2 separate regions of the Homo sapiens genome follow, and region 1 is linked to region 2. The links come from fine-mapping of genetic effects on gene expression. Tissue or cell type: prefrontal cortex. Region 2 holds a variant in brackets; the other region holds the start of a gene. All regions are shown on one strand. Distances are from middle to middle.

The links. PIP is the estimated chance that this variant, and not a neighbour inherited with it, causes the effect.
Region 1: it holds the start of OPA1, and the variant in region 2 is fine-mapped to the expression of OPA1 in prefrontal cortex (ROSMAP, PIP 0.95).

Annotation. Positions count from the first base shown.
Region 1 is chr3:193,591,824-193,594,505 of GRCh38, reverse strand. OPA1 (OPA1 mitochondrial dynamin like GTPase) reads right to left here and starts at 1,298. Exons shown (of 31, transcript NM_130837.3): 1 at 1,097-1,298. The coding sequence starts at 1,128. It also overlaps a transcript of ATP13A4 not described here. RefSeq lists enhancers at 740-819, 333-984, 1,420-1,469, 1,520-1,589, 985-1,636 and a silencer at 1,050-1,199.
Region 2 is chr3:193,709,347-193,712,028 of GRCh38, reverse strand. No RefSeq gene overlaps it. Among named protein-coding and RNA genes, the nearest start is that of OPA1-AS1, 83 kb to the right of the region's middle. RefSeq lists enhancers at 1-883, 884-1,819. The variant C/T (reference allele first, on the strand shown) is at 1,324.

The DNA of each region.
Region 1 (2,682 bases), 120 kb after region 2:
GGAGACAGGAGAATTGCTTGAACCTGGGAGGCGGAGGTTGCAGTGAGCCGAGATAGCGCTACTGCACTCCAGCCTGGACGACAGAGCAAGACTCCGTCTCAAAACAAAACAAAAACAAACTAACGAATGCATTCCATTCCTTATAAACACGATAAATTATCTATACCACTTAAAAAGGTCTGGAAAAAATTCAAAACAACTGCTTAGAAGTTAATTCAGGAAAACCACGTTTTTCCAATTTTGCTTGATGCATCTTACTTCCTATCAAATGCCTGCAACAATGAGCTAAGCTTGAAGGTATCTAATGATACTAGAACAAAATTTCCTATAAAATCCAATTTAATCTCATTACAATGCATATAGTAACGCACAGAAATGAAAAGATTTCTATGATTTTCTATTTAGAATTAAACCACCCCAGGGCAACAATGATTGAGATTAGAAAGGTGGTGCCACGTTCACGACCTTGCATCAAAAAGTAAGTCTCCCTCCCGAAACACAGAAAAAAGCTGCTATTGAAAGGGCATCTCGAATCACCGTCTCTGACACCGTGTGCGTCATTGCTCTAGTTCTGACTTCTATCAGCGGGCTAGGGAAAGAGACGGACGCCCCTTTCCCCGATAGAAGAGCCCAGGTACCTGAAGATGCAATGTACACATGGCGTGGAAATGGAAGAAAAAGAAGACACCGAGAGTTAGGAGAAATGTGGAGAGAGGTGACTCATGGACAGAGCCAAACCTGGCAGGGAGAGGACAGAAAAAAGGCAAAAGAGGCAACCAGAGACAGACAGAACACTGAAGACACAAGGGTGTAAAGGGCAGAGACAAAAGGACAATAGAGACGGGCCAAGATTGAGAGGCGTCCAGAATTTTCGGGTTGGGTAGGGCCAGAGAAAAGGGCCAGTATTGAAGCCGGCTCCGAACGTAAGCCCAGCCAGGGCTCCTGTCATTCTGGGTCCTCAAGAACATCTGGGAATTCTCCAACTGCCGTCGGCCTGGCCTGAGAGTCACCTGCACATTTTTGGAGATAGAGATAAGACAGCCCCACTCTCAAGAGGCCCCAGAATTAACGGGGCCAGATTAGAGCCTGCACTTACCAGGCCACAGCGGCCCGACGTAGTCGCCACATCCCGCCGGCGGGGAGGTCACGCAGGCGCCGAGACGGCCACGCGGGAGCCCCCGTGTGAGCCCCAGCCCGGCTCCCGGTCCAGGAATGACCCAGGAAGTGGCCCTCAGCAGCAAGGGCACAGAGCCGCGGCCGAGGCCCTCCCAATGGCGCATGGACTTCCGCAAGAGCCTGACAGGCACCCGTACTCAGTCCGTCACGGAAACAACCACTTCACCCTTTCTAGGCGGGCAGCACGAACGGTCCGCGGAGGACCAGCGCATGCGCACAGTGCGTCGGGAACGGACTGGAGCAATCCATCGCCTCTCACGGGGCCCCGCCCTCTTGCTTCCGATTTGGAATTCGGAATTAGCCTTGCAGGTTAGAGATTTGGCCAGGGGAGGGAGCGAGAGTTGGGCGGGAACGGGAAGGGCTAAAGGCGTGGAATGAGAATTGATGAATGCTCACCGGGAGCCATGAATTTATTAAGAGTTGGATATTGAGGGAGCACGAAGGAAACTAGAGAGTGCAAGGTGAAATACAGTAATAGCGTACTACAAACTAATGCTTGCACATTTGCCTACCTTCTTTCTTGGGCATCTTTGTTTGAAAGCACTTTCACATCGTTAGGGCAATCATGGGAGGTGAGAAGCAGGACGAAGAGTCATGGATAGGCTAAGTCCCTTAGAATCTCTGAGGATCAGATGGGAAAGGGACTTAAATCAGTTAGGCCAGTAACGGGTTTGGAATAAGCTTGTGTGGTTTATAAAAGGCGTCAAAATGATTTGTTCAACTGTTTCTTCCGGATTTTAAGCCCACCAGTTTGTTGAAATGGTCCTCGTCAAGGCCTCCACCAGCTCCCTATTGTTTGTGGCCAGTGAGCCTGCCACAGCATTCAGTTCAGATGCCTAGTGCTGAGCACTCCTTCAACTACTTTTTCTTTTGGCTCTCTGGCCATCACATTCTCCTTTTTCCCTGGAACTGCTGCTCCCAGGCTTCTTTGATGGCTCCCCTCCCAAATTTCTCAATGTTGGACAGGCCCAGATCTCAGCCATCTTGAGCTCCTCTCCTCCATCACTTTAAATACTCCTTTCCCCTTCCAACACAAACCTTTTATGTTTTGTAAGGAAACCAGGGCCCGTAAAAGGGATGTGGCCTGTGAACGGTTATGAAGCCAATTTTTAGGGACTAAAATAAAAGGGTCCTGTGCATCCTCTTTACTTCAGGGACCTTTCACCTCCTCCCCACTACCCGCCCCCCACCCATGCCACACACATACACAAATACACAGAGCATAAAGACAATTCCTTTTCCCTTAATTGTCAGAATCATAAGTCTGGACCCATGCACTCACAATACCACCAAGAGTAGACCTAGCCATTGATAGTAAACTTCCCAAATGCAGGACTCTTAGAATTTTCTTTATTTATTGTGGTGACTGTTTCAATGGCAGGTCCAGAGAGCAATTTGCTGTACCAACCTGTGCAAACTGTAGATCTTCCTGGGATTGTAGGGTTGTACAAAAAGTGTCTTTGTAATCGTTACTTCCTTGTTATTTTAGAAAATAAAATAAGAGAA
Region 2 (2,682 bases):
CTACAAGATTTGGAGAGAAGTGAGTTGGCAAAAATGAAGCATGGAGTTCACCTTTTTGAATGGAAGCTTTCAGGAAATGGCGATTATAAAGCATTTCTTCATGAAGAAAAGCTTTCTTTTTCATAAGGAAAGGACATTTCTTCTTCATAAATGGGTTAAACCTTATAAATGCCTAAGACGTTGGCTTCCAGTTCAGGGTTTCACTTTTCCCGATAATTTCTGAGTGAGACACTGTACCATTGACAAATACAAGAGACTGCTTTCCAGAAACTCATGTTGCCCAGGGAAGCAGCTCCCGCTTTGTGAGCTCCAGGGCCCCAGTGCCCGGCCATGACCTGTGACCTCCTCGCTCCCGGCCTGGCTGTCAGCTGGAGAATGTGAGGGGCCAGCCTGCATCAGCTGGACAGGGAGGGCCTGGACACACTGCCCGGAGGCTCTGCTTTCCACAAGGGGCTGACCCCTCACCTCAGGTGCTGTGTCCCGAGGGCAGCCTGGATGCCCAGTCAGGGGGCAAGAGCTTAGACACCCCTGCCCTGAGAGCATTTCTCTTTCTCCCATTTTTATCAGAAAGGCTCTGATGAGACTCCCTGCCCTGCCCTCTTTCTGCCTCCAGGGCCCACACATTCAGGGAGGCCTCCCATAACCATTAATTTAGCCAATTTCCTGGGCCGCACCATCCCCCGGGGACCCCACTTTGGTGGGCAGCAGCGGAACAAGACCCCCTGCTGTTTCCCTTCCCTTTTAATTACACGAGGACAAGCTTCCTTGGGCTGACTTTGGGAGGCAAGCCCCAGGCCAGCCTGGCTGCCCTCCACGAAACAATGCACACATGTTCCGGAGAATTCCCTCCTCGCCTAATCCGGGCTGGGAAGAAAAGGGCTTTTCTTCTTCTTGTCAAAGGGAGTCTTCGATGCTAAGATACCATTTTGTGTCTCAAGTCATGTCACGGGACTTCTGCCTCAGCCTCGCTGCCTGCTCTTTGGAAATGAAAGACACAGTCCTTGATTCACCTCAGGACAAGTGCCCCCACCCTGCCCTCCTCTGAAAATGAAAGGGGGTTGGGGGCCAAGGGAAGCGGGAAGAGCTCCCAACTCCCACTGTTTCTTTCTCATCCTGGCAACCTCGGCTTTCTGAACTATTTGCCCAAAGGATGAGTAGGGAGGGCTGAGCCTCACCTGCTGATCTCAAGGGTCATGAATATTCTTATAATCCCCTGGAAAAAAGGGCCCTTTCATTAGAGAAGCGGATTCAGTCCTGGCGGCCTTCGGTGTTCCCACCTCCTCCTGCCCACCGGCCTGGCCTCCACTCTGCGGTCCGGCTCCG[C/T]GGCCTCTGGGTCCCTGCTGGCTTTTCGGCTATTCGCATAGACTAGAAGAAGAACTGGATTTTCATAAGGCACTGCTATGCTGCTTTCCCTCACTAATCCATGTCCCTATGTCATAGAAGAGTTAAAAGAAATAACAAGAAAGAAGTTACAGACATGCAACCTGCCCCTTAGAAAGGGGCAGTTTCACACGAGGGAACTTGCTGAACTCCCTTCAGTACACACGAGGGAACTTGCTGACCGACTCACTGGTAGTTGCATGTTTAAGTTCACACTTTACTTCATTGGACAAAAGGATCTAAGGTCACTTTTGGAAATTCCCACAATAATGCAGATGAAGAAATCAAAGTTACATGAGGAAAAAAAGGGAGCAAGGTGAAATCAAGTCAAGGAAAAATTTAATACCATGAAATTAAGGACTGAATCTGCTTTTCTGATGAAAGGGTCCATCTTTCTAGGGGGTTATAAGACATATAATGTAAGGCTCCATATGAGAGCAAGGATAGGCTGATAATTTAGTTTTGGGCTTCCTAGCAGCCAAAGTAAAAGGAGAAAAATGGTCAATAGAAGGCAGGCACAAAGCATTTGCTCAGGGGTGGCGCAGTTCTTCCTGATGCTGGGTTCTCTATCAACCGTGGGTCCTGGAACAAAAACACTGGTGTGCCGCATTAACAATGTCATCATTAACATCCCTGCGCCAAAGGTAAGAGTTTCACTTAGCAATGCTAAATGAGTTGGACCTGAATCCTCTGCATCTTCTTAAGAAAAATACAGACCCACATGACAGCCTACGTTTTCTTCAGAATCTGTAAGTGCAGCTTATTGAGTTGGTGCCACACAGGCAACACCCTTAAGGGCCTCTCCTGAACAGACATGAATGCTCAGGACTTGGGCTGTGAACTGGACTGTTCACTCTTCCAGGCCCAAGCCCGTAGCACCAGCACCAGCAGAGCAGTTGGAGCAGCGGTGGCTCCACAGAGCAGAGCTGGGCCCTGACTGGAAGCAGAGGCCACTGAAATGTCTGCTAACCCTTTGCTTAGCAGAAAGAGTGGAGGAAACACCTCTGGAGAATAAATTGTACTTGTGTCAGCATAGGTGAGTAGACAGTGCAGGAGAGGGGCAAGATTCCATCAATATTTCTTTTTCTTTTTTTTTGTTTTTGAGATGGAGTCTTACTCCGTCACCCAGGCTGGAGTGCAGTTGTGCCATCTCAGCTCACTGCAACCTCCGTCTCCCTGGTTCAAGCGATTCTCCTGCCTCAGCCTCCTGAGTAGCTGGGAATACAGGCACCCGCCACCACGCCCGGCTAATTTTTGTATTTGTAGTAGAAATGGGGTTTCACCATGTTGGACCTTGGCCTC